7 linked regions of the Homo sapiens genome follow. The protein of the gene in region 5 interacts with the protein of the main gene of each other region in a pairwise test. Each region holds a gene or a part of one and is shown on either strand. Other genes may lie near its edges. The genes, in order: MAPK9, CCDC102B, RNF6, CINP, CCDC33, EMC2 and DGCR6.

Evidence for each region.
Region 1: the proteins of CCDC33 (region 5) and MAPK9 interact in a two-hybrid assay, tested with the Homo sapiens proteins (one large-scale study listed by BioGRID).
Region 2: the proteins of CCDC33 (region 5) and CCDC102B interact in a two-hybrid assay, tested with the Homo sapiens proteins (2 studies listed by BioGRID).
Region 3: the proteins of CCDC33 (region 5) and RNF6 interact in a two-hybrid assay, tested with the Homo sapiens proteins (one large-scale study listed by BioGRID).
Region 4: the proteins of CCDC33 (region 5) and CINP interact in a two-hybrid assay, tested with the Homo sapiens proteins (one large-scale study listed by BioGRID).
Region 6: the proteins of CCDC33 (region 5) and EMC2 interact in a two-hybrid assay, tested with the Homo sapiens proteins (one large-scale study listed by BioGRID).
Region 7: the proteins of CCDC33 (region 5) and DGCR6 interact in a two-hybrid assay, tested with the Homo sapiens proteins (one large-scale study listed by BioGRID).

The regions. Positions count from the first base shown.
Region 1 is NC_000005.10:180,232,718-180,237,070, forward strand, and holds the end of MAPK9 (mitogen-activated protein kinase 9), read right to left. Parts: intron 3,815-4,353; coding exon of another isoform or gene 3,810-3,814; coding exon 3,667-3,809; 3' UTR 426-3,666; downstream 1-425. UniProt on the Homo sapiens protein: Serine/threonine-protein kinase involved in various processes such as cell proliferation, differentiation, migration, transformation and programmed cell death.
Region 2 is NC_000018.10:68,803,973-68,808,325, reverse strand, and holds part of CCDC102B (coiled-coil domain-containing protein 102B), read right to left. Parts: intron 1-4,353. UniProt on the Homo sapiens protein: During interphase, forms fibers at the proximal ends of centrioles to maintain centrosome cohesion. During mitosis, dissociates from the centrosome following phosphorylation to allow centrosome separation. Contributes to CROCC/rootletin filament formation.
Region 3 is NC_000013.11:26,215,549-26,219,901, forward strand, and holds part of RNF6 (E3 ubiquitin-protein ligase RNF6), read right to left. Parts: intron 4,120-4,353; 5' UTR 4,102-4,119; coding exon 3,909-4,101; intron 3,059-3,908; coding exon 2,963-3,058; intron 45-2,962; coding exon 1-44. UniProt on the Homo sapiens protein: E3 ubiquitin-protein ligase mediating 'Lys-48'-linked polyubiquitination of LIMK1 and its subsequent targeting to the proteasome for degradation. Negatively regulates axonal outgrowth through regulation of the LIMK1 turnover.
Region 4 is NC_000014.9:102,349,867-102,353,273, forward strand, and holds part of CINP (cyclin-dependent kinase 2-interacting protein), read right to left. Parts: intron 183-3,407; coding exon 53-182; intron 1-52. UniProt on the Homo sapiens protein: Component of the DNA replication complex, which interacts with two kinases, CDK2 and CDC7, thereby providing a functional and physical link between CDK2 and CDC7 during firing of the origins of replication.
Region 5 is NC_000015.10:74,267,019-74,271,371, reverse strand, and holds part of CCDC33 (coiled-coil domain-containing protein 33), read right to left. Parts: intron 3,031-4,353; coding exon 2,914-3,030; intron 1-2,913.
Region 6 is NC_000008.11:108,474,072-108,478,424, forward strand, and holds part of EMC2 (ER membrane protein complex subunit 2), read left to right. Parts: intron 1-1,810; coding exon 1,811-1,892; intron 1,893-2,710; coding exon 2,711-2,821; intron 2,822-4,353. UniProt on the Homo sapiens protein: Part of the endoplasmic reticulum membrane protein complex (EMC) that enables the energy-independent insertion into endoplasmic reticulum membranes of newly synthesized membrane proteins.
Region 7 is NC_000022.11:18,908,644-18,912,765, reverse strand, and holds the end of DGCR6 (protein DGCR6), read right to left. Parts: intron 2,787-4,122; coding exon of another isoform or gene 2,668-2,786; intron 2,595-2,667; coding exon 2,494-2,594; intron 1,879-2,493; coding exon 1,738-1,878; intron 1,227-1,737; coding exon 1,077-1,226; 3' UTR 678-1,076; downstream 1-677. UniProt on the Homo sapiens protein: May play a role in neural crest cell migration into the third and fourth pharyngeal pouches.

The sequences.
Region 1 (4,353 bases), on a different chromosome or scaffold from region 5:
ACATCTTCCTTCTTTCAAGACCTTTGAAAACACAACTGGGCCGGGCGCGGCGGCTCACGCCTGTAATCCCAGCACTTTGGGACGCCGAGGCAGGCGGATCACGAGGTCAGGAGATCGAGACCATCCTGGCTAACACGGTGAAACCCCATCTCTACTAAAAATACAAAAAATTAGCCGGGTGTGGTGGCGGGCACCTGTAGTCCCAGCTACTCCGGAGGCTGAGGCAGGAGAATGGCGTGAACCCGGGAGGCGGAGCTTGCAGTGAGCCGAGATAGTGCCACTGCACTCCAGCCTGGGAGACAGAGTGAGACTCCGTCTTAAACACACACACACACACACACACACACACACACACACAGCTGGTACTCATCTCTCTGGAATGCTTCTAGTCCTTTTAAGCAGAGAAAAGAAAGTGAGCCACTGAGTGTCCTTCCACTCCTGTGGTATTAAGTACTAAACAGCCTGAAGTGCTTCAAACACAGACGTCAGATGAACTTGGCTCATCCCAGGCACAAAGCCACAAGCACCATGAATGACGTTAAGTAACATGACTAAGGCTGACTGGTGAATTCTCCTGGCCACGCCTCATGAGAAAACAATTACACCAATACTCTGAATTGGACCTGCATATTGGTGAAGTCAAAACTTACTGCCATTAGTTTTGAAAACACAGATTTAGGAATTTGCAGAATATTTTCAATAAGAGAACAAACAGCAATGTTTCTGCCTCTCAGTGTGAAACCTCTTGCTAATATTGATCAAAAGCATGACACTTTATCATCTATCTGTGTTCATGTTAAATCTGTCATCAGAGATGGTGATGGAGAAATATCTAATTGCCATGTAAAAACACACAAAAATTGGACATGCTATACATTTATCTTTTAAAATGTAGTCTGTATTATTTTCACCAACCAAAACACACATAATATATTTTATTATAAAACATTAGCAATGTTACTTTTGAGATATGCAATCTGAAAGGTCACACTTGTATTTATTACCAGGAGGAAATACCAGAGGAGTCACATTAGAAATCAACCAGACAGACTCGTACGTGGTTATCGCTACTTACACAGCATTAAATGCGGGTTGAAGCAGCACCCGCTCCGTGTTTCAGACACGGACTTGGGGTGGGCAAGGGGCCCTGTAAGAGGGCTTCCTCCTCTCAGTACTGGGGCTCTGCGTCTCACCTGCTCCCATCTCCAGGCCCACGGCTGACACGGTATGCACAGCCAGGGTTTCCAGACTGCTCTCCTGCTCTCACAGAACTCTGTCTGCTCTCTGGACTCTGCCCTTGAAACTGAGACCTGGACATGGGGGAGACAGTCGTTTCCTTCTTGGCTGGAAACTAAGTCAACAAATGAAACAAACCTAGTCTAAATTCCAGGATAATAGTAAATTACCTGGTTTATAAAAATACATGTCCAAAATAGTTACTTCCTGGGTTGTGTACAATATAAATTACAAAAATAAAATAGAAAAGATGAAACAGTTGAGCACATTTTTCAGTTCTTTAACCAACATCAGCATTTATCCATAGAGATCAGTTTGAAACCATTTGCGTGGCACCAAGACCCTGGCAAATCTAGGCTCAGGAGAGAGAACCCTGAAGCTGGGGTGAGGTATTTCTGTGGAGCCCTGTGGCCTGTCCTAGGCACGCTCGCCTCTACCTGGTGGAAGATGGCCTTTCCAGGAAACCCTCCACACCGTCACGGGCTCCATCTGTGGCAAGTGGCTCGCTGAATGCACAGAGGAGCGAGTGAGCAGAAGGGCGTCTGCGGGTGCCTCGTCCCCCGTCCACGTCTCCCGGGGAGGGAGCATCACACAGTGCAGGGCAGCTCGCGCATTTTCAACCTCTCCCTTTTGTTTTTCCTTTTAAAGATAGATTTAGTGAAGTCTTTTAAAAGAAAGTGTATTACAGAGAAGGCCATTTTAAGATGTTTAGATAGATAGCCATAAAATAGGTGTTTCCGCCTCAATCCAAGTTATTATTACCATTTTGTACTTGAAAGTGTCCAAATGACACAATATAAAAGAACTATTTCTTATTTCAATATTAATTTTGCTAATCAAAGGTTCCAGTTTCCAGTGATATGACCAACCAATAAGATATAACTGGTGCAGAGAGAGCCATATATTTTACATAATATTTATAATAAACTTTCTTATCACAGTTCCTCCTCAGAACACACTCTACAGAATGTCGACTGAAAAGCTTCCAAAATAATTGAACACAAGATATGAATCAGCAACAGAATAAGCTCAAGGGAAGAGACATGGGCACAGGCAGGCAAAACGTGATCACCACAGCTCCGTTCCTGCAGTGACACTTAACATACTCAGCATCTTCATGAATTCTGAATAATTTACTGATCGTAAAGTCTAAAAGTATCAATTTCAGGTGAGCAGTTTTAAATCAGAAAATAGTCAATAGTTAATCATGACTCTTCAGGGTATTTCCTTCACGTCCTCTGAAGAGTTTCCCAGAACATTCTTGTGAAAAGGAATGCCTCCCAACAATGGAGAGCAACAATAGCAACAGGCATCTGAATCAGCCTGGCCTCTGAAAACAGACCAAAGAGGAGTTTATCTGCTTTCTTCCAGTGAAGAAAGAAAATCAAGAACGTGGTATTGGCCGAGGGAAAGTGAATGAGGGAAGGTAAATAAAGGACCCAGGCCAGTCTGTGGCAAAGGAAGCACTTAGGAAATGACTGCAGTGATCTCTAGTGAGCATTTTGTAAAATTCCACTCCAACGTTAGGCCATGGATGCAGGAACCTATCTGCCATCATATTTAATTAAGATGGAGTGTTACGCACCTAATAAAGAAGGTGAAGTTCTAGGTAGCATTTTAAATTCATAAGAAGTCTAGAAGACCAAGAAGAAAAGAGATAAGGTAGCTAGGATTTCAAGCAGCACTAAGCAAAACTTAAAATTGTATCGTGCAGTAAAGCTGAATGTACAATCATCCCAGACAAGACAGTTTAAAGAAAACAAGATGTCCACATAAGTGTCTTGGTTTTAGCCGTGATAATTCTCAGCCCCAAACATCACAAATCTAAGAAAAGCTATATATTTTTATTTATTAAATAGATTTAATTATATGTCTTCTGAAATACAAAAGATAGAATAAATCATAGCATAAAAGGGAATAAGATATGATAACATCATGATGGCCAATTAATACACATAAATCGACTTTTTCTGGACAGACACCAAATTACTTAAGAGGATTAAGAGATAACTTCAGAAGCAGCACTACCTGGAAGATTATTTGGCATTTAAATACTGATTTCCAAAGTGCTAGATGGGCAAGTCCAAGCAAGCATTTGTGGTCACATGCACATACATCTCAACAGTTACAGATGATGAGAAACTGTCACTAGTACAATTTGAAACAAATTCACCTACTCTAACTGCTCACCTGAAATGATCTTGAACAAAATCTCTAGAAGTGTGGCTTGCAATTTTTTTCTTCAGACATATTCTGCCTCATTTTATCATCTAAGCAGGCAATCCTATCAGGTCTGAGTAGGGCAAGGCATTGTGTTTCTTACATGCAGAACATGGAGTTTTTCTATTTGGTTCCATCAACTCCCAAGCATTTCAGGCCCACGGAGGTGAGAGTTCCTTCAATGCTGACAGGTTTGCTATTTCTAACCTATCATCGACAGCCTTCAAGGGGTCCCGTCGAGGCATCAAGACTGCTGTCTGTGTCTGAGGCCAGCGTCTGCTCAGTGGACATGGATGAAATGTCATTGATCGATGAAGACTGAGAAGGAGTGGCGTTGCTACTTACTGCTGCATCTGTGCTAAGAAAACCAAATATAATAAAATCTGAGGCACGACATTGCTGCAAATCCAGGCAGCGAGACTGCAGGCCATTTCTCGGCTCTGTCCTTTTGCAGTTTCCCAATCCTAACTATGAGTATAGACAAGAAGTCAGTCAGCTGGACTTTCTGAACTTTTCCTTGAGTCTTTCTTTGGGCCAAGAGTCCCATATTCCTATGTCTTTCCTTGCAAGATTCTTCTTTTTTTCTCAGTAGCTAAACATATATGTGGCCATGTATAATCATGTTAGCTACTTAAAAAATACCTGCTGCTTTCAAGCAGACATCAAAAGGACACAGCTATATTTATCTGAAAATGCAGTATCACAAAAGCTTAAGCCTGACTAGGATTCCAGTGTCACCAGACACTTGAATTGTAACAATTTATAACATAAACACTAAATCTACAGGAAAAAAAGCATCAACTTTCAAAGAAATCTTTTGCAATAAATAAAGACTATATACCAGAAAAAGGAAAAAAATTAGTGGCCTTGTATATTTTATGGTTTTATAACTCCAGA
Region 2 (4,353 bases), on a different chromosome or scaffold from region 5:
ACTTCTTTGTCCTGGCCACTGTAATCTGATTTGTAGAATTATTATATTTATATGAACTCTTCTAAGATAAAAATAATATCCATCACATGTTTTGTTCTAATTCTTTCCATCTTAATATAATATAAAACAAGTAATCCAATTTTAGATATGTTACTTGAAAAACAAAATAGAATGGTTGTGCAATATGTAAGCTACTTCTTATAATAGTGAGATCCAAAATGTTGATTTCACTGGGAAAGTTACATCTATAATATGAAACTTATAGATGAGTTTGTAATCTTGAGAAGGAAAAGACGTGGAATCTTAAGAAAAAAAAGTTAGCTTTTGATTCGAAGATTAGTTGCTCAAATCCTAGTGAAACGTTCATCCCTGCTCATATTTTCTCCATGTTAGCCAAAATAAATTAGTAATTTATTCAGACATAGAGGCCACCAACTCTGCAATCATCTTTTTTTTTAAGTGTTTATATTTCTGGTTTTCATCCTTTGACATAGGAGAAGGTAGCAATAAAGAAAATAAAAAATTTAACTAGAAAGTAGAATCCTTAACACAACTGCTGATTGATCTGGGATCCGTTTTCATTTGTTTCCTTTCATTTTTGCATAGTTGTTTGTCTTAGTAAAGACAAGTAAAGGAATTGGATTAAAAATGTCAAAATAACAGGAAGTGAATACTCAGTGTTTGTATTTCTCAAAAGATCTGTCTTTCCAGTCCCTAAAACAGAAAATGGACGCCATGTGCAAGGAAAGCTGCAAAGAGTGGAAGACCAGATTAAACTCTTACATTTCTCAAAGCTTGCTTGGTTTTTATTTTGCCTCCCAATCATGTAATTATTGTCTTCAACTCTTTCCCAAGTAATTCCTGTAACGTCATATCTTAATTCTTCCTCAAAAACTCTATTTTTTCCTTGTTTTTCTTAAATATCTCATGATTTCCCAGATCTATACATTGCATTTAATTTATAAAAAAAGAGAAAAAGTACTAAGAATTGTGTGGACTCCTAAATTGAGTTTTATCATTTTTATCATTGCCTGATTTTCACACCTGTTAAATTTTCTTAAATTAGTAAATTTTCTTAAATTATAGCAAGCAGAGAATATATTGGTCCCAGTTGTTTCTAGAGGCCACCATCTTTAACATACTTCTCAGTATCAAAATAACATAAGTATGTAAATATGATAACATGAGAGCTATAGTAGAACCCAGAGAACACTGGTTCAGAAAATGTGAGGTAAATTCTCTTCCTTGATAAGGTCGTTCAAACTCATATGTGTTCCCCCTTTCAACAAGGAGATAAATACAATGCCTGAAATGTATTCTATGGTTGCTATGAAGATATTTTTGAACCGTTTATATTCTGGAGTATTAAACCTGTGCTGTCTTAAATGGTAGTCACCTATCAGATGTAGTTAGGGAACGCTTGAAATGAGGGTCGCCTGAATTGTGATGTTCGGTGAGTACTAATTAAACACAGCATGAAACGTAAAAATGTAAACTATCTCATTAATAACTTCATACTAATTACATTTTGAAGTGATATTTTTGAAAGATTGGATTAAATCAAAAATATTATTAAAATTAATTTCACATGTTCATTTTTTAACTTTTTAAATGTAGCTACTTTAAATTGCAAATGTTGCTTGAATTATATTTCTATTGGACAAAATAGCTGTAGAGCATCCAATAGACTTTAAGAGCTTCTCTTTTTCCACAGAGAATTTTACAGAAATAGAAAACTGCATTCTGATTTTTTTCAAACATGTTCAGAATGTTTTGGCAATATTGCTGTCTCTAACACCTAGAGGTTTCCTAAATACAGGAAATTAAGATAATTACTAATAATATTACTTGCAAATATATGCTTGAAAAACATATTCTACTGATAATAAAAATGCATACCAAAGTAGCCTGCTATTCAAAGGTAAGTGAATGTGACATTCTCATTCTCTTCCACATGGCCACATAATACAGAAGAGGTGATGTTGCAATAATCATACAAAAATAAAATGAATATCATTTTAAAAATTGGATATGTTTGCTGAGCATTCTTATCTAAGCTTTGAGACATCCCATTAAAATATATTTAAAGCTGTTTAGACAACATGGGAAAAAATAATTATTAATTTTAAAAATGTATGTCATTGTTAAAACAGCAGTTGTAAATAAAAACCTAAAAATAATATTAATTCATGTGTTCTTAACATTATTAATACATATAATTTTATTTTTATCCAAAATTTTGGCAAAATGATAAACACATAAAAAAATTATGGGCTTGTAATCTGCTGTATTTGAAGGCTTCTTTGTCTTGCTTTGATCACTGGCTGAAGATTGCTCTTTAATACAGTCTGTAGGACTGATCAAAATGTTACATAAGCAGAGAGAAAAGTAAATGAGATCACTGACAACACTGTAGAGTCTTGGCATGGGAATGGGTATTAACATTTATATAATGAAACCAATTATGTTAATAGGTTAGGAGAAGTTGAATATGTTTTCAGGGACAAGAAAAATTTTCATGTCCAAAGTATTTCATATATAGTGTCGTTACAACATCCTCACCTCTCAGTTCCTATTAATTCCAATAATATGACCTCACCCACTCACTGGCTGGTTATGCACCTAGATCCCATTACCATACTAGCATTTCTTTCCATATCAATGATAAGCACCTCTCTGATTACCCTTTACTATTGTCCCCATAACTCTCTTTTTTGACCTAGCTATGGCCTCCTGTCAATGGACTGTATTGTTTTTTCTCTCTTCCTCATCGGCTTCACATCCACTCTCTCCTCCCTATTCTGTGCTCCAGTTTTAACAAATTGCTCTGAGCAAGCTTGGCATTCTCTTGACCCTACTTGCTTAGAAACTCTAATGTCAGTGAATCACAGCTGTCTTCCTGCTCCATGTCTGCACCTACACTCTTGATCAGGCTTTGAGAAAACACACCCATTGCTATCTGGTCTCACTTCAGTTTCTTGACTCTGAACCTCATATGGGCTTTAATGTAGCCAAGCCAACTCTACCATAGGGAAATTAATATTTTTCCCTGATTAAATCACAAACATTCTACTGAATAATCCCATACATTAGCTATCTTCAAAATTTTCATATCTTATTCAGCTCTGCCTTATCTGTTGAGATTGCGGGGGTTTTTCTATTTCACTTACAAAAGATATGTAATTATAAGACAACTGCCATCCACTGGTTCCATCATATCTATGTGTCTAATGGATACCCATATGTTATTCTGTCTGTTTTTATAGAGAATTACTCCACGTTCTTAACACCAAACTTCCCATTTGTATGCTCTATCTAATTTCCTCTAATCCGCTCCAGGACATGGCCTCCTCAAATATACTCCTCTCCTGTTTAACTAGTTTGTACCTCTCTCTAGATTAGATTATTCCCATTAGCAAATGCACATGCTATAATACCCTCAACATAAAAAAAAAAAAAAAGATTTTGATCCCAACCCAGCAGCCATTCCATATCTTTGGCATTTTCTAAAATAAAAATTATTTTAAAGACACTTTCATTTATCTCATTTTCTCTTGAAGTCGCAGTATCATTTTCAACTCTAGTTTGCCACAAAAACAGGAAATCAGTGACTTCTACATTGCAAATCTAATGGTCAATTCCAGGCCTGAAATTCCTGTTTTACTTGGCCAACCAGAAGCCCTGTATGTGATTGTCCATTTCATCATTCCCTTTCTTGGCTTCTGAGGGCATCCTCTCTCATGGTTCTCCTCCTACTCCCTGGTAGCTGCCCCACATTCTGTCTCAGCTTCACACCTCTGACTGCAAGCGCTCCAACACTGAGACTTCAGGCTGGGGTAATTGCTCTGGGTGAAGGCATCCAGGCCTTTGACTTCAAATTCATTAATTTTCTGAAATTTCCTAACAGACATATCTCTGGCCTGAGATGTTCCTTTATCTCTGGGATCTCACGTGTCCAGCTGCCCACTTAACATCACTAAGGATATCTAATCAGCATCTCAGATTTCACATGTTCAAAAACAAACACTTGAACTCCCCTCACATCTACACCTGCTCCTCCACAGTGTTCCCTGTGTCAATAAATGCACATTTCACTCTTCTAGGTTTACAGACCAAACTTAGGGGTTACCCTTGATTCCTTTGTCTCTTCATTGCACATCATTGTTGGAAACTCCATCAGTTCTGGCAGGAAAATATGAAATACAGCCTATGCAGAATTACAAAAACTCCATCTCTAATATCTCCTTCAAACCACCCTGTCTCTTGCCTGGAATACTGTATGGTATCTGGCCTCCCCACTTCTACCTTTTCCCTACTCCAGTATGTTCTCCACAGCACAGCCGAGTGGATGCT
Region 3 (4,353 bases), on a different chromosome or scaffold from region 5:
TAGAAGAGAATCTTCATGTGAACTTTCTCTAGGGACTTCTGAGTCTAGAAAGCAAAGCAAATCAACTTAAGATCAATTCCTAAGACACACCTTACAGCTTTATTGAAAACTTGTAAGAAAAACAAAGTTTGTAATAAATTAAAGAACATCTGTGGATTTTAATGAATGAAAGATGGCAAAAAGACAACTTTCTAAAAGAAAAGTATATCTACTATAAGCATATTATAAAAATTAAATTACTATTTACATAGTTACAAAGCTTTAAATACTATTTATGCAACGCTATGGAGAAATCCTCATTCTTACTTTCTATCTGCCCATTACTAGCAAAATACTAAGGCAAATGAGAAACATGTCCACTACCAAAAGTTTACATTTAAATTGCTTTATCAATATAGTAATATCAATAAAATACAAAGACAAACTTTATGTAAAATTTGTCCTGTATTTGTGGAATCTTTCTGGAAAAGCCAACTCAGTCATTTTTGCAACTAGGTATTTCTGTAATCTTAGAAATTTTTCCTATTTCTCAGGTGCTGCCAAAAATGTACACATCAAGAAATGTGAGTTTCTGAATATAACATTAAAACCACATTACTGTATTTGTCTTTGTGTGAAGCTGAGAAACCAGGCAAGTTACTTAAGGTCTCTATGGCTGATCCTTGTCTATAAACTGGAGTTAATAATAGAATCAATCTCATAGGGTTATCCTGAGGATAAAATAAGACGCTATATATAACATAATTAGCATAATATCTGGCACATAAAAAGCCACCCCATAAATGTTAGCTGTTATACATAATAAAATACATTTTCTATTCATTTAGAACGTAAGCTCCAGGAAAACAAAGATTTTTGTAGTTTTAGTCACTGTTACATCTCCAGCCTCTACAGCAGTATCTAGTATAAATCAGACTTTCAATTAATATTGCTCAATTAATCAATTTAGAAATGTGTCACCCATAAACTTTTTTGACTAAGATACTGCCACTGTGCCAAGCTTAAATTTTCCATTTATAACCAGTAGATATTATATAAAGTACAAAACTTAATAAAAAGCATCAACACATTAACTACACAAACTTCAACTTTAAAGTTTGTTCTACTCAAAAATAGCTATTATAGGCCGGGCGCGGTGGCTCACACCTGTAATCCCAGCACTTTGGGAGGCCAAGGCAGGCAGATCATGAAGTCAGGAGTTCGAGACCAGCCTGACTGACATGGTAAAAACCTGTCTCTCCTAAAAATACAAAGAAATTAGCCAGGCATGGTGGCGTGCGCCTGTAATCCCAGCTACTCAGGAGGCTGAGGCAGGAGAATTGCTTGAACCCGGGAGGCAGAGGTTGCAGTGAGCCAAGATTGTGCCACTGTACTACAGCCTGGGTGACAGAACAGGACTCTGTCTCAAAAAATAAATAAACAAATAAATAAAATAGCTATTATATGACATCATTCTGATTTCATTTCATTCCTGCAATCTCTCTCGTAAGACTTTTTTAAATGCTGAAGTTGAAGCTATTAATCAGCTGTTGATGCCAATAAAATAAACAGCAACTGAGCCATATTCCAGAGATGATGAGCTATTTTATATTTGATGAGTACATTTTCCACTGAAACATATTCAAAAGATCAGTATTAATTATTGCATCTATATAGTACAACTTACATATCTAAACACAAATAATAAAATGTGTTAATGTCCACTTCCCATTTGTTTGGAAAAAGAATGAGTAAAAGGCAGGTGAACATGAATTATTTTAAATGCTACTTCCTTCTTTGATTAACATTTGATTAAGTGTAGTGATGATGGTGCATGTGAAAGAGTTTGCCAAGTACCTACTCAAAGCTACCCTACTCTTCTTCCATTGTAAAAGCATCGGAAATTGGCTCGTGGACAGCCTGGCAGTTAGGTGTGACCATGAGACTAAGTTCTCATGAATGGAATGGGAGAGTAAGCGATACATCCTACTCTCACGCTAGTGCGTGGACCTCCTTCCTACCAGCTAGAACCTAGATATGGTTGCGACTTACCTTGATCATACAAATGGTACCCTGGAGCAGTGATGCCCCATAAATCTTTCTGAAGTAATGAGTATGTTCTGTATTTGTGCTGTCCAATACAGAAGCCACTAGCCAAATGTGACTATTAAGCACCTGAATGTGGCTAGTATGAATGAGCTAAATTTTAAATTTAATTTGATTTTAATTAATTTCCATTTAAATAGTCACATGTGGCTAGCAGCTACTGTACTGAACAGCACAGTTGTAGAATCATTCTGTTAGCTGAGTGGGTTCCAAGAGGATTTCCTTCCCTGGACTGTTAACGTAAGTAAGAAACTTCTAGCTTATTGAGCCATTGCATTTTGGGGTTTTTACATAGACTTCATGGTAACTAATACAATGATTTTGATATAATATGTGAAACTACTAATAAATACCTCTGAGGAGGGAAGTAGAACTGGTTAAGAGGAACACAAAAGTGGCTTTTCCTTTTAACTCTACATACTTCATTTAGTTTGAAGTTCTTTTATAGTACTTTCCTTATAAGAACTTTTTATATGTAAACCATCAAACAGAACAAAGAAACAAAAACAGGTTTCCTAACTCAGTCTTTCTACACGGTTCTGTATATAAATTTTTAGAAGCTAAGTAATATCACTTTAGAAAAAGTAATGTGTACATTCCAAGATTAAAAAGAAGCATGCTGGGAATTAACTTAATTGTATATTATTACATAAAGCTCTCTGAAGGCAATCTGTGTGTTTAAGACATCTTTGCATTCATTCCTCTGTCCTATACTGCTTAACCATACTGCTTTACTACTCATATATATATTATCTGAATGAGTATCACATTAAAACTGGAAAAAATTGAAGACAAACATACTATACAAGGTCTAAGAATTTCATTTCTGCAAGTGCTCCAATCAAGCCTGTTCCTTATGGAAAGGACTCCATAGTACCTCTGTAATTCGTTCCATCTCTCAAGTCAGGCTGAGATGCTAGTTGTTCCTTGACGCCATCTAACCGCTGTTGCAGTTCTTCTGATGTTATTTCTCCTAAAACAATGAAAAACTGCTCATTTAAGAATTCTGAATTAAGTTTTATGAGACCTCATGAAGGGTAAGACTAATCTTTAGTAACCTATAGAAGACAAATGTCTTATTACTTTCATATGTTCTGTAAATTGAAGACAGTTAAAAATATTCAACTGGTACAAATGTGCATCAATTCGGTTGTGCTTCATTTATTAATCTTTTATTAAAAATTATTAAAATAAGATTTAATTTGAATAGTTGGTAAAGTGCTGCCAGTTGATACACTTAGGAATCTATAAGCTATAACTGTGGATTTTTGTCAGTTAAAAAGAAATTAAGGGAGCATTTATAGAGAAAACTTCAAATATTTACTTGAATTTTATCCCAAATACTTCATTATATGGGTCATCAATATACAAACACACAATATATAAACATACAAATTTCCATTAGTTCATTTGTAAAAACTTTATGGAACACATTGGGCTTTGGGGGGAGCTATTAATTCAGCTGAATAAATAAATTATAATACCCCAAATGAGTTCAAATTGGGTTTTAAGTCATATTTTATTTGTATAAAAATTACAAATAGGACCATATATGTAAATACTTAACACCATTATGTACATTAACCTGTTTCTTAGTTTGGCATTTGTATAATAGTGCTCCATGTCCCCTATTTTCACCTTATAAAATACAGAAGCCAGTGATTTTCTACTTTATTATACTAAAAAGTTCTTAAACTCACAAAAACAATATACTATATTTTCATAAAGAGAAGCAAGGAAAAAGAATACCAATTCTCCTTATCTTGAAATCCTTCCATCTAAATGATGAAAAAAGGGTGTTTCCTCTTTTACCCATCTCTTACCAGGGGTGCCTAAAAGATTATGGTCTCTCATAAGCCGATAATCTTCATCATTGAGTTCATTAATAAACTGATAATAGGCCTCTTCTCTGTGGAGACGCTCTTGCTGCCATCTTCTCTCATTTTCATGATGATTATGGTCTTGAGGTAAGGTTTCTTCACTGCCACCATCTGATCTCGATCTAGACTGATTCATCCTGAGATTCCTGGCTTTCTGTTCAAACAATATAAACAACATTCAAGGTGTTAAGTCATGGACCACATTTGGCTTTGTATTTTTAACTTGCAGTTTTTCTTAATTTTTAAATGTTGTCCCCTACCCAAATACTGTATTTGCCAAATCTTGCAGTGAGAAGCTTACATATAAAATGAAAAACAGCTTCTAGGAAATACAACACAATTGGCACTTACTTCTTTGCCTAAAGCCATTAAGTCAGACTGGATTTGG
Region 4 (3,407 bases), on a different chromosome or scaffold from region 5:
GCCCTTAATAACCTTTACCCTCCTGAAAATCAACTGAGAAGGAACTACTTACAGAAATGGGTTGTAGGCCACGTGTGGAACAGAGGGGGTCGTTTACTCTCCTCCCCATAATGGTAGTTTTCTAGTTCACAAATTCCCTTGGTAGTTGAAGACAGCTTTTCCATTTTCACCTGTATTTTGGTCTGAAAGATATCCATTTGGAATATGATAATATTATTTGAAATCTCCAGTCTCAGATTTAATAACTCTAAGATTTCAAAGCTAAGAAGTGTAAGTCTATTATGATAAAAATTCCAATAACTAAACACTGTTAACTCTACGTACAGCAAATTCCCAGGGAGATGAAGGTGGACAGTTGCTATGATTTCATTAATTTGAATGACTTTGGTAATAAACCCCAGATTTCCAGTCCTAGAGCAAGAAAGGTTTCCGAGTGCCATTTCACTAGGATTTCCAAACAGCATTAATGTCTTAGACCCAAAGACCTGGAGGAATCCCAAGGCAGGCTCTTGCTGCCTTTTTTTTTTTTTCTTTTTTTTTTTGCGACAGGGTCTCATTCTGTGTGGCATGATCATGCCTTATGCAGCCTCAACCGCTGGCACCTCAGCCTCCCAAGTAGCTGGGATCACAGGTGTGCACCACCACACCCAGCTAATTTTTTTTAATTTGTGGAGACAGGGTCTCGTTATGTTGCCCAGGCTGGTCTCTAACTCCTGGGCTCCAGCAATCCTCCCGCCTCAGCCTCCCAAAGTGCTGGGATTATACAGGCATGCGCCACCGCGCCTGGCTGGCTCTTGCTGCTTTTAAGAAGTGAGAGAGAAAGGCATCAAATGAGCTCGTTTCTGATGCTCTCTCTCTCTCTCTTTTATCAAATGAGCTCGTTTCTGAGGCTCTCTGTCTCTCTATCAAATGAGCTCGTTTCTGATGTTCTCTCTCTCTCTCTTTTTTTTTTTTTTTTTTGAGACGGAGTCTTGCTCTGTTGCCAAGCTGGAGTGCAGTGCCAGGCTGGAGTGCAGTGGCGAGATCTCGGTTCACTACAACCTCTGATTCCCTGGTTCAAGCGATTCTCCTGCCTCAGCCTCCCAAGTAGCTGGGATTGCAGGCATGTGCCACCACGCCCAGCTAATTTGTGTATTTTTAGTAGAGACGGGGTTTCACCATGTTGGCCAGGCTGGTCTTGATCTCCTGAACTCGTGATCCGCCCACCTCGGCCGCCCAAAGTGCTGGGATTCTAGGCATGAGACACCGCACCAGGCCTGACTCTCTCTTATTAACTGCCTTTATTTACGGAAACCTCCTTGACTTCCTTGTTTATAAAATGGCAACACAGAAAGGGAGCCCTACACACTTCACGCAGAAAGGAAGGAAACGTGGCAAGCTGCCATTGACGGTCCCTCAGTGTGGACCAGGCTCTGTCCTAAGCCCTGTAACTGCATGATGTGTATGGCTACTTGTGGGAGACACTAAACCAACCCCACTGCACACACCAGGCAGCACAGAATAGGGGCAATGGCGGGCTTACTTTCACAGCTTGGTGAAGAGGATTAAGTGAGTTAGTATTTGTGAAGCACCTACTTGGAGATATATAAGGGTTGGATAAAGAAAATTAATGGGTGAAGTAACTAGGATTTCAGATTTAAGTAGCATAGGTCTATAAAGACCAAATTTTGAACTCCTAAGTATAGTTGACTTTACATACATAAATATGAAAAAGGGGAAATAAGAAAAGATATATAAATTGTCAAATATCTTAATTCCTTTACTTGGTCCTTCCAACCACCCTCCAATTACATTGGAAGTGGCAAGCACTAAATTCAGCTAACGTTAATTTTTAAAGGACTTTACTTAAGTAGTTTCCCAAATCTTTTAAGGTTTGATATTTTATTTGGCCCAACCCCAAGAGGCAGGACTTGTCATTTCCGTTTCACAGCTGGGAAATTGCTTAAGGTTGAGCTGAGGAAGGATGAGGCCAGAACTCGATACCATGCCTTCTGACACCAAGTTTTTTTGTTTTTGTTTTTGTTTTTGTTTTTTTTGAGACAGAGTCTCGCTTTGTCACCCAGGCTGGAGTGCAGTGGCGCGATCTCCGCTCACTGCAACCTCCGCCTCCCGGGTTCATGCCATTCTCCTGCCTCAGCCTCCCAAGTAGCTGGGACTACAGGCGCCCGCCACTGTGCCTGGCTAATTTTTTTGGTACTTTTAGCAGAGCTGGGGTTTCACTGTGTTAGCCAGGATGGTCTCGATCTCCTGACCTTGTGATCCGCCCACCTCAGCCTCCCAAAGTGTTGGGATTCCAGGCGTGAGCCACCGCGCCCAGCCGACACCAAGTTTTAACACCCAATCCTCTGCTCTTTCCTGTGAGTCCTGCAGCAGCTCCCTGGTGCCACCTGATTCTAAGAAAAGCTGATAACAGGAGACTAAGGAAAATTCTGGAGCCTTGACCCCAGGCAAGAAGTCATGCTCAATCCTGCAGCTCAGCCATCAATAAAGAATTCAAGTCACATAGGCACGTGCAGCCCTGAATGAACAGTGCATAAACAGCAGGCCCTTACATTTCAACATCGGTGGCTTCTTCCCACAGCAAACACAGACCACAGTGAAATGTTAGCCCAGCTTAGGAAGAACGGTGCATGAAACCCCCAGAAGGTCAAAGTTATGAAAGACACAGACCAGGTCTGGAAACCATTCTCTATAACGGATAGAGGAAAATAGGAAAAATAATAATACCCTATAAAATCAACTTTTGGTTTTGAACATAGAATGAGAACTTATTCCCAAACCACTTTTCTTTTTCTTTTTTTCTTTTTTTTGACACGGAGTCTCACTCTGTGGCCCAGACTGGAGTGCAGTGGCTTGATCTCGGCTAACTGCAACCTCCGAAAGTGATTCTCCCGCCTCAGCCTCCCAAGTAGCTGGGATTGCAGGCACCTGCCACCACCCCCAGCTAATTTTTTGTATTTTTAGTAGAGATGGGGTTTCACTATGTTGGCCATGCTGGTCTCAAACTCTTGACCTCAGGTGATCCACCTGCCTCGGCCTCCTAGAGTGCTGGGATTACAGGCATGAGCCACTGCGCCTGGCCAAAACAAAAATTAAAAAAAAACAAATAAAAATACAACAATTAGCTGGGTGTGGTGGCAGGCACCTGTAATCCCAGCTACTTGGGAAGCTGAGACAGGAGAATCACTTGAACCCAGGAGGCAGAGGTTGCAGTGGGCAGAGATCACCCCACTGCACTCCAGCCTGGGCAACAAGAGTGAAACTCCATCTCAAAAAAAAAAAAAATTAACAAATGGGAGGGAGGGAACAAATCTCCCACGCAGAATAATTCCAAATAATTTATGTAGATACTGCACCCTCAAGCAGGTGGTGAATACGTCCCTACCCCCAGGTGTGGGCTATGCATA
Region 5 (4,353 bases):
GCCCCTCCACTGGCTCCTGGGGAGGGGTTGGGCTAGGGGTAGGGCTAGGTGTTCCAGCTCCTTGGTTTCTGTCAGTCAAATGAGGCTCCTCCCAGGGCTGTGAGGGGTCTCTGATTAGATCGTTTGTGAGAGAGCACTTTATAAACTGAAGACAGGAAGCCCAGGTCTGGTTTCTCCGACCATGCTGAACTTCCTGAGATCAGCGGCCACAGCCAGGCTCCCCTTGCCTCCCTCGTGCCCATCACCCTGGTGCCTGCTCCACTGCTCACCCTGGTGCCTGCTCTCCTGCCTTGCTGGTTTCCCCAGGAAGTACTGGTTTGGAACAGGATCATAGCATCCGCATCTCTGGGCTCCTCTTTCTTCATCAGATCCCGGTTGTCACTCCCCTGACCGCCCTTGGTTGTTCCCTCCTCAGTCCTCTGTCACCCCCTAAAGGCTTCCCTGCCTCCCAGTCCTGACTGCCCTCTCCTCTACTCCAGGCTTCTATTGGCGCAGCTTTCAGAGAGCCGAGCGGGGTCCCAGCAGGAGGTTACAAAGCAGGAGTGGACAGCGTCACCTTGCTCCAACCCTCACTGACCCCCTGCTCAGTCTGGGCCTGGGGGACACTGGAAGGCAGACAGGGGAGACAGGGAGTCTGTCCCCATGCGCCTCTGCTGCCAGCCTAAGAGGCCCTGATCTCCCGGACCCTGACCCTCACCCTGTATCCACCAATGGCTCCCACTCTCCCTCAGCCCTCACCCACCTCCCACTCGGCTCTCATTCCTCTTGCTCCTTCGATTCCTCTGCCTCCTCACTAGCCTCTCCACTTCTGTTCCTTTCCCTAATCCATCCTCTTTCCCAGGCAATTTGACACATGATGGCAAAAGTGCTCTTGTTAAAAATGAACTGGGTCACGTTATTCCCTGCCCGACACCCCACAAGCCCCTCTGCCGTGTCTCCCGACAGGCCCCCAGCCCCTGTCTTCTTGCTCCAGACTCTTTTACTCCTGCCACTTACCCCTCTTATTTCTGCCACAGGGTCTTTGCACATGCTGATCCCTCTACTCAGACTCCCTGCAGCTCCCACCAACCCATTGTGGCTGGCGAGGGCCCAGGAGTGAGGCTTGTTCTGGATCATTCTCCCTTTTCTCCCTCCGCACCCTCCTTTCAGGCTCCTCTTTCAATACCCATCTCAGCTGGTTTTCCCACCTCTAACCCCACACAGGTGTGAGCTGATGGGCACGTACAATAGTCCTTAGGGCCTCGCAGCTCTCACTGAGGGCTCTGGAGACTGAATCCCTTCATCACATTCAAAGGATTGAATCTCTGATGGTACATTTCACACTTTGGATGGGTCTGGGGTCTGGGGCTGAGGGATTTCACTGGAGGCTGGCAGGCCCTATTGCTCACAGGCTCCCCAGCAGGTGTAAGACTAAAAAGGGGGTGGTGGCAGCTAATTTGCACCTGTTCTGTGTGGACTCTGATCAGGTGTGAATGAGACAGCTGCCCAAGTACACCTGCTCATGACAGCCTGGGAAGTAGCAGAAGTTCCTGCTCCTGCCATGCGCTCACCATCAGGAGCAGGCAGCTGCTCTGTGGCCATACCTGTCGCACGGATGGAGAGGGCATCTGTGCTGGGGCAGGAGAGTGGGCAGGGTGCTGTGAGCCAGAGAAGGCCCCTACTCTACCGCTCTACCAGGCAAGTCAGAGGGCTGGGTGGGGTGGGGCAGCTCCACAGCAGCCCTAAAGTTCTGCCTGTGTCTTGGGGATGTGGCCTCCTCCCTGTGGGGTGCGGCCTGGGGACAGCAAGGCCAGGCTGTTGCCCCTCTTCCTTGTTCTGTGTGTGTGTGAATTGCTGGCTGTCCTCAGGAAAGGGCGTGATAGAAGGTGGCGGGGAGCAGAGGGCGCCTGTAGGTCTGATATGCTGGCATCAGAGGGGTGGCTGTAGGGGAGTAGAAATGTGGGTTAGGAGTTTTGGCTCCCATACCATACTCCCCTTGGGTCTCAGTGTCCCTGGCTGTGAAAGAAGGCAAAAGAATGCTTCCTTCCCTGCCAGGCCCACGGTGCTGGTGGGAAGTAGGGGGGTGGGAAGGATAGGAACAGATCAGCCATGTTTGGGTAGGTGGAAGCTCAGAGCTTGGGTCCTGTGGCTCCCACCCTGATCATACTCAGGCCATAGCTGAATTTGAATCTGTCACCCATGGGCAGTTTGAAAGTTGGGGGGAATGGGAGAGGGGCCAGGTCCCTGCATCATGTCTGCTTTGAGCATCAAGAGTTCCTCCCAAAGCTGCTAATTGGCCTAGGGGGTGGATGGTGATGGGTCAAGGGGCAGTGGCCAGGCCCAAGGTGGGCTCAGCCCTGTCCTGGCTAATGGAAGAGGCTCTGTAAACAGTTGCTGGATGAATAAATGAATGAATAAACTAAATACCTAATCGCCAGACCAGTCAAACCTCTTTAGACACAGTGCTGAAGGAAAGCTCAAGGAGGCCCTAAACTTTTGCTTGGGGGCCAAGGCACTATCCCAGGAGGGGAAGAATAGAGCAGGAAACTGCTGGGCTGTGGGCTCAGGGGGAGCACGGGGCTTCTCCCCTGCCCCTAGCATAAGATTCGGGGAGACAGGCTCTGGTCCCCACTGCAGCACAGAGACGGTACACCAGGAGCAGCAGTGTGGCTGAGCCCCTCCCCGCCACCTCCAAGACAGAGAGGGAAGGAGAAGAGGCTTGAGCATCTTCATCCTTGTCATCCCTGCCAAAGGGCTTGTCTTCACAACTCCTTTTGCTATTTTGGAAAGGCCTGGTTGCTTTTTCCATTCTTGACATCTCTGCTCCACACCCTCAGGTCAGCCAGAGGGGGCTAAGGGCAAGGCGTGGGGCCTGCTCAAAGCTTGGCCCTTTCCCACCCCCACCACCACCCCAGAGGGCCCCAGCCCTGGTACCTCCAGAGCCATGTGGTTGCAGCCGATGTAGCGGGGTATGAAGCTGCTCTTCCGAACGACTGTTGCGTACAACTGGGTCTTGGCAGTGGCTTCATCGGCTTTCCCAGACTCAGTGGGCTGGAGACAGGGTTGGGGCAGAAGACACAGAGGAAGGAGAGTGTCTAAGGGGCAGATCCTGGCCATAAATCCAGCCCTCTGCAGACAATCACTTGGCATTGCTCCGCTGGGGCTCCGAGCTGATAATTAAAGCTCATGGTCCCTGTGAGCCCTTCCAAGGAGATCAATATAATAAATCTTCCCTTTTCCATTTGAATATTTCATCACCCTCACAAGGACCACTGCCTGTCTGCTTTCCAGTAAAGATGTGATAACAAGGCCTGGGTTGTAAGTGAACAGACAGCCAGGGGGCCTGGGTGATGCCCCCAGAATTACAGCTCAAGTGCTGAGTCTCCCAGGGTGAGTAGCACATCTCTCTTTTACTTCCCTGCATGGCCCATCCTGAAGCCCTGGGATTGGGGTTCCTCATGGGGCCTAAGAGAAGGTAAAGCCCCCTGGTGCCATGATTGAAGAAATGCTTAGAAGAAAGTTCAGTGCTGGCCCGGAGGAGGGATGGGGGAGGGTAACTGACCAAACTGAGCACCTACTGTATGCCAGGAACCTTGCCTATCATTGCTTGAGATCCTCAAAACGACTGTGCCAGCTTTGCCAGTGAGGATGGAGGCCTGGGGACCAAGTGGCTTCCATGGGTATCCAGCTAGGAGGCAACAAACTTGGTCTAGGACCCCCGACAGTCTGGCTTCACATTGTTCTTTACTCTCAACCACTTTCAGGGTCTGGAATGCACAGTGGGGAGGGGAATGTGATGCTTCTGTTCATCTCTGGCTCACTACCTGGCACATAGTAGGTGCTTCATAAGTCCTTGAGCAATGAGAGAGTGAATTCTACCCCTTACCCTTCAGCACTAGGAGGGAGGACAGGCAGGGGTCTGGCCTGGGAGGCCCAACCTTGGAGTGAGGAGCCTCAGGCCCCTCAGTCCATGGCTTGGACCCAGTTGCTCACTCCAGGGGTGCATTCCAGGGAATGCTTTATTCCATGTACCCCCCAACTCTCCTGGGCCTTCTGGCCAAGGCAGCATGTGGAGGCAGCTCAGAAGGAACTGGCTTGGGAGACAGCATGACTTGGGCTCACCCTCAACTCTGCCGCTCACTTGCTCTGTGACCCAGGAGGAGGAGATTTTTCTCCCCAGGTCCCAGTCCCATGTCTGCAAAATGTAATTTACCTTGAGGATTAGAGAGGGGGTGTGAAATGTCTAGCACAGGGCGTGCAAGCAGCGGGTACTCGGTAAATATTGTGTTTCTTTGATTTTTAGATCCGCTCTTTTAACATTTTTGTAATCAAAATCTATCTTTAATTGGTATATTCATTTAATGTGGCAGTTGT
Region 6 (4,353 bases), on a different chromosome or scaffold from region 5:
CAAAATTAGTTTGATACTGTACTTTATAAAATTGGGGGAAGGAGTCCTTTTCTCATATGTGATGCTAATTGATTTTTGAGAAAATATCTTGGTATTCATTTTACCCTAAGAGCTGCTACTACCTGCCCATTTTATCTTGCTTTATGCACCAGTGTCACAGTTGTGCTCAACCCATTTAAATGTCTAAGAACTTTTATTCTTAGTCTCAATATGAATTTTTGGCATCATACTATTAATAATTAAAGGAACACATTTAGAAGAGAACTGTCTTTTGATAAAGTGTTTAAGGTAGAGACAAATTTTCCCTTTTCTTTTCGAGTGATAAATATATATTAGGTAGGTAGTCATAACACATTTGTTTTAGACATTTATTCAATCATTTGTTCAGTCTTATTAAATACCTATCATGTGTCAAGAACCAATGCTAGGTTTTGAATTTAAAAATGGAAAGGGCTAAATAGCTGCATGATCTTGGATGAGAGTACACACACACACACACACACACATACATATATATATGTGGTCCTTCATAAATCTAAAATGCTGTAATTATTAGGTAATCTGCAGGGTGTATTTTTTTTCCTCAGTCCCTTTGGGTGTGACTGCTGTACACATTTTCATGTTACCATTGACATCTTCAGTTTTTCAATGTGATGTGTAATGCATATAAGCAGCATATGTAGTGGTTGAAGAGTACAGGCTGTCTGGAGTGGCACAGCCTGGGATTCAGTTTACATCTCTGTGCCTCAGTATTCTCAGCTCTAGCATGTTGATAATAATTTCCTTCTTCCTAGGGTTTTGGTAGGATTAAATGAGTTAATACATGTAACACATTTAGAACAATGCATGACACGTAATAAGCATTTAGTAAAAGCTATTATTAGTATACATGTGTGAAACAGGAAAATAATTTTTAAAAGTATATCAGGCAGTAGTGTAAAGGTAGATCCCTTTGTATACTGGTAAATGCCAAAAATAACTTTAGGTAGCCTCTTTTTGTTGGGTAGTGTCATCACTTCCTCACTGGGAAGAAATCTTGTAACACCTGTGTTCATTAGAATTTCCTGTAGATAGTGAGGATAGTCACATGGCATTAAACGTTTAAAATATATTTAGTGAATTACAGTCACATGCTTTAAAATGTTTTTCCAGAGCTCTTTCTGGCAGTTCTCTTTCCTTAGGTTTTCAGCAAGATTTTTGTTTATTCTACCACAAGATTAAATAATAGTACAGTATATATCAAAACCAACTTGATCTGTTTTTCATGGGCTTAGAAATTTATAACTTCATTATAATTTGGTATTTGACAGTGAACTTAAGTAATGAGAGAAATCTTTGTAATAGAATATGTTGGTAAATATATGCCTGTGAAGAATTTTTAGTGAGTAGAGAATATTTAATAAAATGTTTATTTTCTCCTTACACATTAGCTGTTTGAATATTTTTTTAAATGATCAGTCAACTTCCAGAAGTTGTTTTATATACAGCTTGATCCAAGGTCTTGAAGCCCTTCTTATTAGTAGTGATGGGATGTAGTAGGAGTGACCCAGTTTTTGAAATGTAGTATCTATTGATTGTTTGCAGGCTGCTTTAAGATTTAAGCCTGTGTTTATTAATTTCATGATAAAATTTAATGTCATTGATATTTATGAATTTCAGATGACAAATACTTTATTAATAAAGCTATGTAAATTATATTGGGAATAAATTGTTTAACATGACTAAAGTTGTTTTTAAATTATTTCAAGGTTTAACTAAGATAAAAATTTGTGACTTTAAAAATTAATTTCTCCTCTTGATGTGTTTTTAGCTATGCAAAAGCAGCCTTTTGTTTAGAGGAACTAATGATGACTAATCCACACAACCACTTATACTGTCAGCAGTATGCTGAAGTAAGTGTTTTCAGAACAATGGCATATAATTTTATTTTGGTTACTATTCGGTGTTATTATGGAACTAAGAATATTTCCTTGATGTTAAGCAAGTATATAAATATTTAAAACATCTGATGAGCATTGAATTGTGGGAATAAAAGTTTAAAATTTTTAACATTGCAGTGGTAATACTGACTTAAGACATACTTAAAACAGTGAAATTCCTTGTATTTTTATATTTGTATACTATTTTCTTTCCTAATTATAAGTTATATCACATTTGTCACCACTTAATGGCTTGTGAGACATTTATAGTGATTATGATTGTTAAATCCATATTCTGGGAAATTTGTATTAAAGCCAATTGGGACATAAGTATTTATTTAATTTGCATATTATTAAGAATAGCAGTACAACTGAATGCTATAAGGCTAGAAGGACTTCATTATTAAAGAATGTCCATGCAGATTATAAAAGGACAATTCAATATTTAAGTCCACATTTATAATGCCAGTAATAGAAAATACAATGTGAGGTGAAGCATTTGCGAGGCAGCTGAAATAGAAATTATTCTGGCTTTTTATTGCGGCAGCATTTTTGTTTTAGAAACTACTCAGTCATCTCAATGTTCATAGAATAGAATAGCTTTTTTGGGGAAGGTTATGTTTGAAATTTTAGATTAGCTTTAAAAACCTTTAGGTGAATTCTTTTAACATCTTGTATTTGTTTACAGAGAATATCTGTTTCGATTACTGAATGCCTATGGTATGATGAAACCATGCTATATTTCAAAGTAGTAAAATAAACAGTTTTCAGCACTTTGCAATTTTTAACAGGTTAAGTATACCCAAGGTGGACTTGAAAACCTCGAACTTTCAAGAAAGTATTTTGCACAGGCATTGAAACTGAACAACAGAAATATGAGAGCTTTGTTTGGACTTTATATGGTGAGTTGAGGTGCATGTTTAATGTTATTTTTAAAAATCTGTCACTTAAAATCCATTTAACTATCCCCTTCAATCACTCCTCTCCTGTTTTTTGTATTTTATTGATAAGCATGTTTTTTTCTGTAATTAATTCTGAGCAATAGCTTGTGAGCCAGTTTTCTTTTTGAATGTTAACACAGCCTAGCTGTTTGACATTCTTTTTTTGTAAACTATCTTTTATATCAGAATTGAAATCTGCCCTTATAAAATTAAATAGTGACAGATAGGAAGAAAACATGATTTCTTGTTTTGATATTCTTGGGTTTATGCCCAACATTATTGTATTTCTTCCCTAAATTATAGTTGTATGAGGTATTTTTAAACAGTGCCAATAAAATACATTAGAAATCAAATCCCTAATACATCAAATTAAAACATTTTTTATGGTGTAGAAAAACAGTTTGGAAATTGTGGGAAGTATGTAATGACCTATTGTTTAGGTATGCCAAATGCTGAGCTTAGAAAAGTCAATTAATAAGAGCTGTGGGAAATAGAGGAATAATCTGCTGACCTTTAAAACATATATATAAAGTGAGCACCTCCCTACAATAAGAAACGCTGGGAGAAATAAACTTTAATATTTTATTTATCCTGTTCCTTTGACTTCTTGATGAGTGTCTTCTTGTTGCAGCTCAGTGAAAAGGAACTGAGTGAAGAAATGGAAATAGGAAGAAACAAAAATGAAACAATTTTTAAAAAGGAATGGCAAAATATGGTTAGAAGGTGGTTCAAATGAATTTCAAGAAAATTTTCCTGGATTTTAGCAAAGCCAATTGCAATGGCTTGAAAATACGCTATAGTAGAAGTATCTCTGTATCAAATAAATACTAATTTTAAAAACTAATATACAACAAATTAATAATAGCTTATACATGGCACTTCATGTGCTGGGCATTGTTCTGAGCTCTGTTTTTTATTTTAAATCAATAAATCCGCACATCAACTGTTTGAGTAGGTGCTCTCAATACTATCCTCAGGTGGTGAAACTGAGACACAGATTTAATTAATTTGCCCAAAGATGGGCACAGAGCTCCTAAATGATCGAGTTGGGTTTCCAGCCCAGGAAGTTAACTCCAGAGTTTTTCTCGTAACCACTGCATCTGCTAAAATTCATAAGAAGAAGGTAACATTAAAGTCATAGAGGTATAAAAATCAGATTTGGGGATATAGATTCTTCACTGGCAGAGAGGGAGACATAGGTGAAAGAGCCTATAGCACAGGCTGGCATAAAACAAAGGCTTAACCTTTTTTTGAATCACATGGTCATATTCTTTTAAGAGTAAAATATATTTAAGAATAGGAATCAAGTTATATCTTACTCTTCACAGTAATATATACATTTAATAATTAGCATATGATTTTGGGGTTTTATGGATTCTTTCACAGATCCCAGATTAAGAACCGCTCATTTAAATACATTTTTAAAAAGGAGAGGGTGGATCAAATTGCAGGGACTAATTAGTTCTCTGAAACACAGTTTGAAAACTCATGGT
Region 7 (4,122 bases), on a different chromosome or scaffold from region 5:
CCCTCACACAGGGTCAGCTCTGGGCAACAAAGAGGGAGTGGCTCAGACAGGGTCAGAGAAGTCTCATCCCAGACTCTGGCTTCCAGCATCATCTGTTCCTGGGGGCCAGGCCCTGCGCAGACCTGGCCACCCAGGGTGCTGGACACCCCCAACCCTGACTCCACAAGGACCCAGCAGGGCCCATGGGCCCAGGCCAGCACGGAGGGGACTCATGCAGATGCAGAGGCCAAGCTCCCCAGGTGGGCCTGGCACGCCTCCCCGCAGGGCTCCTCCTCAGGCCATTCCTGCCACCCTGAGTCCTCTACCCCAGTGACCTGCATCAGGCTCCTCCTAGTGGTTCCCACAGGACACTGACCAGGCTGCGGCAGGCGCATACTTGCACTTCGGGCCTTCTCCCATGCTCTCCAGCCCCCAGCCCCACAAAGCAGGCTGGATGTGGTCCTCATGCCCTGGGGCTTGGATGGGGGCCCCTGTACAGATGGCAGTGACAGCATCCTGGGACCAGGGCTGGGGCAGGAAAGGCTGGAGGGTCCCAGTCTCCAGGCAGGGGGAGGGGTGGTGGGCTGGGCACACAGCCCAGGAAGGGGCCCCCAGGTAGAGGCCTCTGCTGCAACAGAGGTGGGGGCCCTACCAGGGCCCCGGTTATGGCAGAACCTGCAGCTATCACACAAGCCACATGCGGGCCACACTGAGGCATCTTTATTTCTCTGGGTCACACAGAGCTTGGGCCTGGGAGCCTCTTCTGCATGGGGGCTGCAGCTGCCAAGGGAGCGGCTGAGACCAGAACAAGCGCTCGAGTGGGCCCCAGTGCAGGTTGGGATGTGCCCGGTGGAGTAAGGTGTGAGAACCCCCAGCCTCACTCTCTGCCTGGCCCTGAAGCAGACAGCAGCAGGCTGGCCCAGCCTCCCCTTTATGAGACTATCCTAGGGTTTGACAGCAAGTCCCAGATGAAGGGTGACAGGCAGCTGGGGTCCACCTGGTCTCTCCTCAGCAGGGGGAACCCCCTGCGGGCAGCTGGGAAGGCAGTGGCCAAAGGTCAAGAAGATGAACTCTGCCCAGACTTCTGCTGCCTGTGGCTATGGTGGGACAGGGCTGCCTTTCTGGTCACACTGGGCAGCAGGCAACTGCCAGGGACCTCCTAGCCCCAGGGCTGCCTTCCCTGCCCAGCAGCCCCTCTGCTGCAGCTTCCGGATGAGTTCCAGCAGGTTCATCTGCAGCATCAGCTCCTGGGATACAGAGGGGCCCCATGAAGGCCAGAGTGACCCCCAGGCCCCTTTCATCCCGGCCCAAAGGTGCCAGGCAGTGAGCCCACGGGGCGACCATCCTGTGAAGCCTGGTCATGGCCTGCTACGACAGGGTGGAATCTGAGCTTCTGCCCCCAGCAGGGCCACTCGGAATCTGAGCCTCTGCCCCCAGCAGGGCCACTCGGAATCTGAGCCTCTGCACCCAGCAGGGCCACTTGGAATGGCATGCGGGAGGGGAGCAGAAGAGGGCCCTGTGGGGCACAGCAGGCCTGGGGAGGGTGGGCAGTGCCCATGGCTGGCTGGCTCACCCCCCTGTAGGGAATGGGCCTGGCCTCCATGCTGGGAATGGCACAGAAATCCTTTCCAGAGCCTCAATCCTTCCACTTCACCCCCTATACCCTGAGCCTGGCTCCCCAGGGACCAGCAGTGAAATCCCAGATGGAATGGGGCCCAGGGGCACTCGGGCTAGGACAGAGCAGGCCCAGGCACTGACCTGTGGGTTGGTGGTCACGTAGAAGCCAGCCACCCCCGCCTTCTCCAGTGTGCTCTGCTGGTCAGCCACCTTCCGGTCCAGCTCCAGGACGATCTTCTGGTCCATCGCCCGCTGCTCCTCACGGATCCGGTGCTCCACCGCCTGCCGTGGGGCCGGGGGCGGCGGGGGAGGTGAGGGCAGCTCAAACACATGCTCCTGCTGCTGTCCCCAACAGCACCAGCTCTGACACCACCAATGCATCCTCACCACACCCAGGCCTCTCCTCGGCCAAGTGAACCCCTGAAGGGGGCCCCAAGGGGCTTCCACGAATGCTTTGACTTGGGACTGCCTTGGGACCACACACACATCTCCGCAGGCACACCCTGCCCCATGACTTGTTGGTTACATGCCGGTCTCTGGTTGTCCCTGTGCTCCCGGGGAGAAGGATGGGCCCCTTCCTGGCTGGCCCCATCACCCCACCATTGCCTTTGTACCCCCCGAGGCCACCTGCTCTGCGGAGACCCCAACCCACGAGGGGCACTAATGGACTCCAGGGGAGCACTGGTGGGTTCTCACCCTCCACCCAGTCCCAGCACACCTGGCACCCTCAGCGAGGAGCCACCTGGTGGGACTCACTAGGCCTCCAGTGTCCCACTCAGGCCCAGGGTAGCCACCCACACCTGAGCCCCCCACACCCCTTCAGCTCAGCCCAGTCAGCAGAGCCAGGTGGTGCCCACAGGAGAGCTGGGCCGGCCACCCTGCCTGCGTCCCCAGTACCTCTAGTTCTCGCTGCTGAGCCGCCTGAAGCACAGGCAGGTTATGGGGCCGGCAGGCCTGCTGGGCTTCCTGGTGCTTCTGCCGCAGCGCCTGCCTGAGCACTGGGAGGGATGAGAGCCCGTCAGCAGGCGGTGGGACTCGGCAGCAGCCCTCACCCATGGGCACCTGCCTTACCAACCCAGCAGAGCAGCCAGGCCAAAGGGGTGTCTGCACTGGGGAGGACGCCAGCCTCCTCCATCCTCCCACCCCACTGTCACGGCAAGTCTCCAGGGGATTCCAGAAGGTGCGGGGCACTGAAAGAGAGTGGGGGTGGGGAAGACTGGCCAGGTGGGGCCAAAGCTGCAGCCCCAGACCCAGGGCAGCTGGAGGGGGCAGGCGGGAGGGAGGCTGCAGTCTGAGGGCTTCAGGGCCCCCGTGGCCACAGGCCATAGGACATCTACTCAAGTGTTGGAGACCACCTCAGGCAAAGGCATGGGAAAGGAGCAGGAGGAGCCGGGTCGCTGACCCTGAGCGTGGGGCCTCTGCCTACCAGGTGTGTGGTTGGCCCCTCCACCCTTGGTGCTGCCCTTCAGGGTGGGCAGCCCCCTCCCCCATTTGCAGCTCCCAGCCCCTACACAGCACCAGAGGGAGAAGGGTGAGCTGACCTGGGAGGCCCAAGTTTGGGATGAACCTGGGGTGTCATAAGCCTGTGAGGCTCTGGGCCAGGGAGTCTGTGTGGCTTTGAGGGGCTCACCCTCGGCCACCAAGCAAAGCTCCACGGTCCCTGCTAAACTGTGCACAAACACAGATGTGCAAACTCTAGTCTGAAGGGAGTGTACAGAGGAAGCGATCATGGGACATAAACCATCATGGCAAAATGGAACATGGAGCACCCCGCAGCTGGCGCCAGTGCATTAAGTGCCAAATGGCTACAGTTCCCCAGGAAGGAGGGGTCCCTGGCCACAACAAAACGTGAAATCCAACACTCTGTTCCTGGGAAGAGCCCTGATGTTGCAGCTCTTCTCTGGTGGCAAGTCTCCAGGGAACTCCACGGCCCCTGAGGCTCCCCTGCAGGTAGCCTGGCTCCAGCTGTGCCTACAGCCTTCCCCAATCTCCTGTTTCTTGGCATTCTGTACACACCTCGACGATGGTATTTACCAAAAGCCCCCCTCAAGACAGCTCCATAACACAGGGAAGCAGGGAAATGTCATCATCTTCACTCTACTGATCAAACATTGCTACAAGTGCCAGGTCCACTACGAGATTCCACTAGATATGCAACCAAAAGGCAAGAAGAGAGCCACGCCGGCTGCCTGGGCAGAAGGGGCCTGGCCTTAGACACGACCGGGAACACAAAGGAGGCAGGAGCAGCCAGTCACCCCTGCCAAATCAGCAGGAGAAGCAGAAAGTCAACGCAGGCATGCCTGCTGCTGGTGGAACCAGGACCTGGCCCAAACCTTCTGAAGCACAAACAGCATTGGGCCCAGGCAGTTACTGAAACTCCCCATCCTGCTAGAAAGAACTACAACTCTGTGGAAAAATGGCCGATTCCAGGACTGAGACACGGAGAAAACAAGAAAAGATGAGCCTGAACACATACCTGAACCAGAAAGCAAGAAAGTGCTCACAGAATGATGGGGCGGCATCTAA